2 separate regions of the Homo sapiens genome follow, and region 1 is linked to region 2. The links come from fine-mapping of genetic effects on gene expression. A gene starts in region 2. The other region holds a variant in brackets. All regions are shown on one strand. Distances are from middle to middle. Region 1 overlaps IL15RA (interleukin 15 receptor subunit alpha). Region 2 holds the start of CALML3 (calmodulin like 3).

What was found. PIP is the estimated chance that this variant, and not a neighbour inherited with it, causes the effect.
Region 1: its variant is the best candidate, but not a certain one, in a credible set for the expression of CALML3 in minor salivary gland (GTEx, PIP 0.53).

Annotation. Positions count from the first base shown.
Region 1 is chr10:5,955,388-5,960,387 of GRCh38, reverse strand. It overlaps IL15RA (interleukin 15 receptor subunit alpha), which reads left to right. Exons shown (of 7, transcript NM_002189.4): 4 at 1-21; 5 at 602-634; 6 at 3,934-4,009. Among named protein-coding and RNA genes, the nearest start is that of IL15RA, 20 kb to the left of the region's middle. The variant G/C (reference allele first, on the strand shown) is at 2,733.
Region 2 is chr10:5,521,725-5,527,240 of GRCh38, reverse strand. It overlaps CALML3 (calmodulin like 3), which reads right to left and starts at 2,280. Exons shown (of 1, transcript NM_005185.4): 1 at 470-2,280. The coding sequence starts at 2,155. The coding sequence ends at 1,706. It overlaps CALML3-AS1 (CALML3 antisense RNA 1), which reads left to right and starts at 995. Exons shown (of 3, transcript NR_120497.1): 1 at 995-1,108; 2 at 5,112-5,325. RefSeq lists enhancers at 575-1,275, 1,276-1,975.

The DNA.
Region 1 (5,000 bases), 430 kb before region 2:
CCGCCTCCCACCAGCCGCCAGGTTAGCACTCGCTTTGCCCCAGGAGAGGTCAGTTCCCCATTGCTGCTTCTGAGATCGGGGCTGAGATCCGGCACAAGGCAGCTTTATACCATCAATCCAAAGTCAGGATTCACTGGGCAGCCTGCTGGCCCCGGCCACCAGCCACGGCGTCCTGGCCTGACCTCTTTCTCCGTGGCTTTCTCTGTGGCTGGGGCAGCTGCAAAAGCAAGCCCACACCCCCCCAAGATGTGACAGGGCCAGCCTTATCACCCGCATGGCAGAGCCTGTGCAGCTGGGAGTGGCATCTGTGCCCTCCTGCAGTAGGAGGTGGTGAAGCTGCCTACAGTCCGGGGCCAGGATCTGTGGAATGGAGGAGCTGAGGGTAATGGGGACCTTCTGTAAGGCTTATCTGATTCTTAAGTGTGGCCAGCACCTCAGTGAGCTACCCTGCTTGTTCTTTGCTAAAATGAGTCTGGTTACGCCAGCCACGAGTCTCCCAGGGTGCTAAGATGGGAGCCAAGCCATGCAGATTTTCTCCTGCTTCATGAGGAACTAGGACCTCTAGGACTCGAGCCGTGATGCTGTCCTCTCTTTTCCGCAGGTGTGTATCCACAGGGCCACAGCGACACCACTGGTAAGTGTGTCCCTTTGTCCGGTATGTTTATGATCAGGGTGACCGCAGTCCCAGGGTGCTGGGTGGTCCTGGCCCAGGCCCGCTGCCCCAGCACAGCCCTGACAGCAGCCCCTTCCACACTCAGAAGGCCTCCATCAGATAATAAGTTAAGTAATAGCTGATTTATGGAATTCTCTGTTTGATGTGCCCATTTTTCTAAATATTGGTAGCTTCTAGCTGTCAGGCTACTGGGGTTGAACCCAGAGAGCTGGCACCCCAAATAAGGGCTCAAGGTCAGCTCTTCACAGCAGGGTGCACCTCTTTTGCATGGAGCATCCAAAACTACAGGTGCTGATGCCAGCACTGACGTTACAGCATCTCTGCCAGAAGCTGCCAATTCCTCTCCAGGGCGTGGCACCGTGCACTTAACAGAGAAGCTGTCCACATTTTCGGTATAAAATGCTACTCTTGGCCAGGCATGGTGGCTCACACCTGTAATCCCAGCAGTTTGGGAGGCCGAAATGGGAGGATTGCTTGAGGCCAGAATTTGAGGCCAGCCTGGTCAACATAGCAAGACCCCATCTCTATTAAAAAAAAAAAAAAAGAAAAAGAAAAAGAAAAAAAGTTAACAAAACAAAATAAAACCAAAAATCTGCTCCTCTTTACAGAAGTCACACGCAATGCTAAGGCTAGGAGAATAGAAAAGAGAACGTGCAAGTGATGATAAGGAGGAAAAGGGGAAAGCGTTTACAAGACTAAAAGAAAAAGCTGAAGGGAGGGGAGGAGAGCTGAGAGAGGAGGGGAGAACAGGAGGAAGAAGGGAAGCAGGCAGGGAGGAAGAACGCAGGTAATGAGAAGAATGCAAGTCATGCTCCAGGCTGACAAGCTTCCAAAGTAACAAAAAACCCAACTGTAATTTGATATGGACAAAAATTATTTTAATCTTCTGTTCATAAATTTTTCTGCTAGAGAATGACTCATATTTTTGTGGTGTCATTTTTACCTGCATCAAACGTCATCTGGGAAAACATCAAGTGACTTTGGACATTTTAGCAGTTAATTGATTAGAATCGTTTAAAAAACAATCAGGCTGGGCGAGGTAGCTCACACCTATAATCCCAGCAGTTTGGGAGGCCGAGGGGGGCTGATCACTGGAGGCCAGGAGTCCCAGACCAGCCTGGACAACATGACAAAACCCCATCTTTACTAAAAATACAAAAAATTAGCCAGACATGGTGGCACATGCCTGTAGTCCCACCTACTCGGGATGCTGAGGTGGGAGAATTGCTGGAACCCAGGAGGCAGAGGTTGCAGTGAGCTGTGATCACACCACTGCACTCTGGCCTGGGCAACAGGACAGGACCCTGTCTCAAAAAAAAGACGAAAAGCAAATCCCATTTCTAACTCAAAAATCCCCTTGCAGGAAGGAAGCAACACTTGCTACCAGATTTCCAGGCATCCTTCCAGAGAGACTGTATAAATAAACATATAGAGGATAAGGAATGCTGGACAGTTGCTTCTTTTCTCCTTTTCTGTACCATGTTTGTTTCCACTTGCTGGTATACCTTGTAGATCCTCCCATATCAGGACACAAAAACCATCTCATCGTTTTTAACAGCTACAGAATATTCCACTGTATGGAATTCCTACCATTAATTTAGCCAACCCCCTATCTGGACATGTGATTGCTACATTCTGTTGTTATCTTACAAACAGCCATTAATTGAAAATCCATAGGTGCAAGAACATCTGTAGGATAAAATCCTACATATAAAGTTCAGGGGTCATTTTTTCTATATACATTTTCCAACAACTATTTGATGATGGGCTATAATCTATAATCTGCTTTTGCTAGTTCATGACTTTTATTAGATTAAAAAATCAGCCGGGCGCTGTGGCTCATGCCTGTAATTCCAACACTTTGGGAGGCCAAGGTGGGCAGATCACTTGAGGCCAGGAGTTCGAGACCAGCCTGGCCAACATAGCAAAACACCATCTCTACCAAAAATACAAAAATTAGCCAGGTGTGGTGGCAGGCGCCTGAAATCCCAGCTACTCAGGAGGCTGAGGTAGGAGAATCGTTTGAACCTGGGAGGGGGAGGTTGCAGTGAGCAAACTC[G/C]AGCCGCTGCACTCCAGCCTGGGCAACACAGTGAGATTCCGTCGCAGAAAAAAAAAAAAAAAGAAGAAGAAAAGAAAAAGTTGGCCAGGCGTGGTGGTTCACGCCTGTAATCCCAGCACTTCGGGAGGCTAAGGCAGGCGGATCACGAGGTCAGGAGTTCAAGACCAGCCTGCCTAACATAGTGAAACCCTGTCTCTACTAAAAATACAAAAATTAGCCGGGCATGGTGGCACCTGCCTGTAGTCCCAGCTACTCGGGAGGCTGAGGCAGGAGAATTGCTTGAACACTGGAGCTGGAGGTTGTAGTGAGCTGAGATCACGCCACTGCACTCCAGTTTGGGCAACAAAATGACACTTCATCTCAAAAAGAAAGAAAGAAAGAAAAAGTTGTAGGTAGACTGGACGCAGTGGCTCATGCCTGTAAACCCAGCACTTTGGGAGGCTGAGGCAGGTGGATCACTTGAGGTCAGGAGTTTGAGACTAGCCTGGCCAACATGGTGAAACCCCGTCTCTACTGAAAATACAAAAAATTAGCCAGGCGTGGTGGTGTGTGCCTGTAATCCCAGCTACTCAGAAGGCTGAGGCAGGAGAATCACTTGAGTTCAGGAGGCAGAGGTTGCAATGAGCCGAGATAGTGCCTCTGCACTCCAGTCTAGGTGACAGAGGGAGACCCTGTCTCAAAAAAAAAAAAAAAAAAAATTGCAAGTGAAAAAAAAATGAAATTGGAAGGAAAATGGCACTGTGTGCTATTGTTTCTAAATCTGTGAAGTTGAAGCAAAGTGGGCGTTGTACTGGGGACAGCAGAGGAGGGGTGTGTCCCTGTCTGCTTTTTCAACCCTGGCTTTAGCAGCAGGAATGCTCTCTCCTCATCGCACTCTTGGCTTTGCCCTTGAGGCTCTTACTGCTCCCTCCTGACTTGCTCCGTCCCTGCCCCGTCACCCCAGGCACTCTGCCTGAGAAGGACAAGGATGAGGAGCAGAGGTGTGGGACGACTGGGAGCTGGCACCCTCAGCAGGAAAGAGAATGTGTTTTTGCCTAGACATAGAATCGGGGGAATTGCATGGACCTTAAGAAATGTCCTTAGCAGGAGGCTGGTTGGGAGGCACTTGGATCCCTCTGTAAGAACATCCATGGTAAAGAATTTGTGGTTCGTAGCAATGAATGTGCTTCTGGGTATCTCAGCGTGGTCTCCTCCCTTTCAGTGGCTATCTCCACGTCCACTGTCCTGCTGTGTGGGCTGAGCGCTGTGTCTCTCCTGGCATGCTACCTCAAGTCAAGGTGAGTTGCACTGGATACTCCCTCTGCAAGAGTTAGACTTCCCCATGAGAAAAGAGCTGCACCTGGCCGGGCGCGGTAGCTCACGCCTGGAATTCCAGCACTTTGGGAGGCCAAGGCGGGCAGATCACTTGAGGTCAGGAGTTTGAGACCAGCCTGGCCAACGTGGTGGAACCTCGTCTCTACTAAAAATATGAAAATTAGCTAAGCTTGGTGGTGCACACCTGTAATCCCAGCTATTCGGGAGGCTGAGGCAGGAGAATCGCTTGAACCCGGGAGGCGGAGGTTGCAGTGAGCCAAGATTGCGCCACTGCACTCCTACCTGGGCAACAGAGCAAGACTCTGTCTCAAAAAAAAGAAAAAGAAAAGAGCCCCACCATAGTGATTCCAGAATGCCCCCTCCCAAGAAGGACGCCTTTCCTGGCCATCGGCTCTCACACACCCCTTCTCTAGGAGCCAATGAGTGCCAGAGCCGAGGAGCAGTGAGCTAGGCCCAAGCCCAAGTGCCCCCTACCCCTGCTCATGGTAGAAATGGGGCGGCCAGAGAAAGTGCACCAGGTGGCCAACGCGTGCAGTCCTACCCATTCTTCTTGTGATACCCTCATGAATATATTCTTGAAAGTCCTCATTGAATAGGGGTATGCCTTCTTATAAATATACTGATTCATGTTAGCCTTAATTTTGTATTTCTAATCATTGAAATTCTGCATCTCAGCATTTCTGGCAAAAATATTTCTGCCACTTGCTAACTTTTTTAATTTTTCTCATTTTTTTAATCTTTAGGCAGTATTATTATTCTTTGATTAAAGCCTCAAATGGCATTCTAGCCTTCATTTTGTACTTCTATCAATTAGTAACCAGTATTCCAGCATTCCATACTGATACGGATATCAGATTTGTCCAAACTAAACTTTTAGTTACTATTAATAGTTATAAAACATTCTTTTCTAAATGTGATATCAATATAAAAATTATGTGACCCTGGCTGGGCACG
Region 2 (5,516 bases):
AGGTGTGTTAAGAATGTTGTTCTGGCTCCTCACAAGTGCTGGAGAGAGGCGCTACCGTAGTTACCATGATGGAGGCACAGGTTGGTGTCAGACCTGTAGCTGAGTGGTCAGGGCACAGACCTGACTGAAATCCCAGGTCTGCCTCTTACCCACTGGTGGGACCCAGGGCTGCTTTCTAAAGCCCTCTGTGTCTCCACTTCCTCGTTTGTAAGATGAGGAAGGTAATAATAGTGGCTGCCCCATAGGGAGGTGCCAATTGTCTATGCAGGCCAAGTGCTTGATGGTGCCCTGAGCCCAAGCAGGTGGCATGAGGGTCCTGTCATCCTGGAGGTCCCAGTGGTGCAGTGATGATGGCAAGGCCGGGGCTGGGGCCCAGCTCTTTGTTTTACAAAGGAGGAAACACTGGGTGTTGGTGGGCGGGGGTGGGGTGTCAGGGAGAGAGGATACATCCACCATGGCCTTTTCTGATGAGCTCCGTCTAGTGCCCATCCCGCAAAACATACCTCCCTTTAGAATTGAAGGGATCTCTGGCAGGGCCCCTTCGACCTTCTCTAGGTGTTGCCAGCAGCTTGCAGGGCTAGTGCAGGACTAACGGCTCTGAATTGCTCTTACACTGTGTGTGCCCAACTGCCCCCCAACCCCTCACCATCTCTAGTGCCTGGCACTTCACAACCAGGGAGCACTTGCCAGGGGGAATCAAAGCAATCAGCAGGTCCCTTCTCAACGTAATGGACTCAGGTCTTTCAAGTCCTGATGGACTTTTAACCACTCTTTGCTGCCAGCGTATCCATTTGATTGAGAATATTCAATATTTCCCTCATCCAGACTTGTCTCTCTCTGAGGCACCTTTCCCGCTCCCCCGTATAGGAATTCATTGCATTTTCAAAAAGCACAAAAATGGAGATTCCTGCCTCGTTTCAACCCTGAATTTAACAAGGATCATTTCCATGGAAACCAAAAAAAAAAAGGAAATGAAATAAGGACGAATATCTCATTTATTTCCCTGCAGCTCTCATCCCCTGCTCATCCAAGCCTCCCTCCTTCCAGATGAATAGGAACAGGTTACAGCTGACCCAGTTTCACTCCCAGCTTCAGAAGATGAATCACGGTGGGTTGGCGGACAAGGAATGGGGCAAGCTGGGGCAGCGCGGAAGGCAGTGCTGTTTTCAGGAGGCCTGACCTCTGTGGCCAGAGTCCCCGTCAGCACCGCTTACTGCAGGCCAAGATGCCTCCCACCCTCCAGAATCCGACCGCGGAGGGAGCTTCCAGTCCAGGAGCCTGCGGGAATCCTGGCGGGGGCTGAGGGCTGCAGCCCCCCTGGCCTGGGCATTGGGTGCCTCTTAGGGATCTTGCCTGGGTGCCCTAAGGGGTCACCCGGTGTCCGTCCTGGAGGGCCGCAGAGTCAGCGCAACCTGCCCTGGTGCTCGGTCCTAAGGTCAGCTCTGCTTCTCCCGAGTGGGGAGGGCGTCACGGTTTGCCTGCAGTGGGAGCGTTCCGTGTCATTCAGACGAGCAGGTGGGAAGGTCGGCAGGAGTGCAGAGAAGAGACGCGGGAAGCGGGATGCAGAGAGGTGGGCTGAATCAACCAGGCGCAGGAGGAAGCCACAGTGCCCAGGGGAGGCAGGGGGATGGGGGAGGAGGCGGGAGGCCCCGGGTTCTTGCCCTGTGGGCCGCGTGGGCGCCCAGGAGCATGGTGGGCGCCGGCCTCACTTGGACACCAGCACACGGACAAACTCCTCGTAGTTCACCTGTCCGTCTCCGTCCGTGTCCGCGGCCCGGATCATCTCGTCCACCTCCTCGTCACTCAGCTTCTCCCCCAGCCGGGTCATGACGTGTCGCAGCTCGGCGGCGCTGACGAAGCCGTTGCCGTCCTTGTCGAACACGCGGAAGGCCTCGCGGATCTCCTCCTCGTTGTCCGTGTCCTTCATCTTCCTGGCCATCATGCCCAGGAACTCGGGGAAGTCCACGGTGCCGTTGCCGTCCCGGTCGATCTCACTCATCATGTCCCGCAGCTCGGCCTCCGTGGGGTTCTGGCCCAGGGACCGCATGACCGTGCCCAGCTCGCGGGTGGTGATGCAGCCGTCCCCATCCTTGTCAAACAGGGAGAAGGCCTCCTTGAATTCTGTGACCTGCTCCTCAGTCAGCTGGTCGGCCATGCCAGGGGTGGGGGCGTGGGTGGCAGAAGAGGCCACTGTGGGGTCTCCCTCCCAGTGCCGCAGCCCGGCTGCTGTCCCAGCTCTGGGGTGGCAGGTGGAGATCCGGGCGGCCGGCGGGCTGTCTCGCCCTGGCTTGAGACGCTGGAGCTTAAGAAGCAGCAGAGTCCTCCCCCATCATTGGCAGACGCCCCTGCCCTGCGGTTGCCCGGGCCTGTCCTGTTTAGACAGGAGTCCAGGGCCTGCGAATCGAGCTGACGCCAGCACCTCTGTGCCTGCTTGCACCTGGACCCAGCAGAGCCACGGGGGCCCCGAATCACACCTGCAGTCAGGGCGTGGTGGGTGAGCTTTGGAGCAATCCACGCTGGACTCCTTCCTCCTGAATTTCCCTTTCTCTCCTCCCTCCCCGTCTCCCACCTGCCGCCTGTCTCCCACTCAATAAACTCCAGTGCCCTTTCTTCCCTTGAGTGGAGGGCTTTTTGCAGGATGAAAGGCAGATGAAAGAAACGTCCTTGCCTTTGGTTTCTAAAGCCTCATATAGAACAGGAGGGTTTTTGGAGGAGGAAGGTTTTCCCTTCAGGTAGAAGCAGCGAGTTTTCTTATCTTCAGAATGGACATGAATAGGGAGGGGTTTCCTCCAACCCATTCACTCATCCACCCTTTCACAGATATTTGAGTGCCTACTAGGTGCAGTGTCACTCTGGAAGCTGGGAACACAGTGGGACCGGCAAGCCACCCCCAGTCCTCGTGAGGTTAACTAGCAAGACAGCTAGTTTGCAGGTCAACTGATCGAGGAATGCAAACAAGGTGACTAGGGATTATTGATAAATGCTGATGGACATACAAGGTGGTGATGGACAGGACCCCGAGGTCACCTTTCAGCCTGGTCAAGGACAGACCTCCTGCTGAGAAGCAGCTGTCTAGGCCGGAGTGGCCATGGCAGGGCCAAGGGCTGGAAGATGATCAGTGGGGCTGCAGGCCTGTGAGGGAGGGGACAAGGAGGAGAGACAAAGGAGACCTTGAAGGGCTCAGCCAGGAAGTCCCACTATCATTCTCTGGTCCACATTGCCCCAGGAGCTCCGGGCAGCATGGAGCTGGGGCTGTGGAGCGGCCTCTCCCAGAGGAGACCCGCTTAGGGGGATAGTGGGGTGTTCACAGCACAGACTCGGCTCCCACTCCCAGGGGGCCTGGAGACATGACCCCCAGAGAGGCAGGAGCAGGCGCTTCACCTGTGGGAATCCAAGAAATCCACACTGGGGGAGAAACATGGAGCCCACTCTATTTTTTGCTGGGTGTGTGGGGGTGGGGTAGAGACCGGAAAGGGAAAGAAAGTGTCCTTTTGAGGACCTGGACTTGCCGAGGAGAGACTATGGCAGGAGAAGGGCTCGGATATTCATTTTTTTTCTCTCTGATTTTCCTTCCCTTCTCTATTCAAGTAGAGGCAAGTGTGTCCTTCTGGTCTGGAGGGGGTCTGTGGTAGGGGGAAAATTGAAGCCACCTGCAAGACACCTTCCTTCCTACCTGAGGGCTCCCACAAAGCCTGTGTCCTGAGGGTTTGGGCAGGAGGAAGCAGGAAGGTTGAAGAATCCCTCCATCCCCATGGAATCTTTTCCTTAGAAGAGAAGTTTGTGGACCCCAGAGCAGCAGGGCTCAGGGATGTGGTGGCCACAGGCAGCCTTGGCAAAGAGCCCTGGGGCCCAGGGGTGGCGTGGAGGGAACGAGGTGATGGGCATCTTGGAAGCCACGTGTGTGGGTGACACTTTGGTGACCAGATCCCACCCTCCCCTCCTTTCTCACCCCAGAATATTCGGCCTTGCCTGAGACCTCACACCCCAACAGCTCTAGGGGAGTGGGGAGATGGGCTGGCCAGGACTCCCTGGGGTAGGAGAGGGGCTGATAATAAAGTTTAGATTTAGAGAGAAAAATGAGGCAGCATCTCCATTTGCAGGCTGGGAGCATGCCCTGGGCCCAGGTTACAGCTCTGTCCACAGGGGGCTGCGCAAGAAAGAGTGTGTGCTTTGCTCCTGGGAGCCCCGCCCTTCCTCGAATATTCTGGAGATCTCTTTTGTGGTGGGGAGACCCAGCAAAGGCTGCACACACAGCTTGCTCAAGGTCACCCCATGAAAAGTTCAGCTGGGGATCAAGGTCCCTTTTTTATTTTGGGGTTTTTTGGGGGCTAATTCTGGGACATGGGGACCTTCTGTCACCTTCTGAGAAGGGCTCTTGATTGTACACTGGTGCCTGATGCCTGAGTGTTAGAATTCATATCCCAAACGCACTTTAAAAATATTTAAATATCTCCGCTCTAGATCACCCGAATACCCAAAAATAGCAGGTTAGTAACAAATACCTGAAATTTCCTCCACACCATGAAATAATACACAGCCTTTAAAATGAGGATGAGGATATAACAATGGAAAGGTTTCCATGGAAAATTTTTAAAAAGCAGATAGAAAACTGTATATGTGATATGATTTCATGTATTAAACATTTATATATGTTTATTTATATACATTCACAGAAGAAACGCCTAGATAATCATGTACCAAACTCTTAATAGTGGATACTTTGGATAATAGGATTATAAGTGCTTTTAATTTTCTTATAAATGTAGTATCTTTGCTCATTTAAAAATGTTTTATATTTGCCATATATCATTTCTATTATTAGGGGAAATGACTGAAGATTCAAAAACCATCCCTGATAAAAAATATTCCATATCTTACTGAACTCCCAATATTCTTTCTCTTTCTCTGAGGTTAGGTAATGTGGAGGGCCTGGTAATATTGTCAGCTTTATATCTCTCAGAGATATGAGACTATGGTGAGCATAGCTATTATTATGTATAGAAAAGCAGAATAATTAATAGCCAATAACCACACCCCCTATTTGACTGCCAGAGTGACCATCTAGTGGAAAAGATGCTATGAAGCATTTTTCTTCTACTTTCCCTGCCTAGGGGCTGGAGAGACTTCTTCATGAAGGAATACAGGGACAGTCACAGGAGACAGGAGCACCAAGGGATTCGGACATGTGGCTGACACAGTCTTCTGGAGAGCCCCGGATGGCATCAGGGGGAAACCTGGCCTGAGACAGTGCCCTGATGGACAAGGACAGGAATACGGTCATACCTCCTGCCCACTTGACCAACGACCAGGATGAGAAGCCAACAGGTAACTGCTGGTTTCTGGGTCATGGCTCTGTGGCTCAAACATTAGCTTTTACCTAAATGTCCTTCTCAAAAAGGCACACTGAAAGAGGACTCAGTGCCAGGTGCAGTGGCTCACACCCATAATCCTACCACTTTGGGAGGCCGAGGCAGGCCTGAACTTGAGGTCAGGAGTTCGAGACCAGCCTGGCTGAC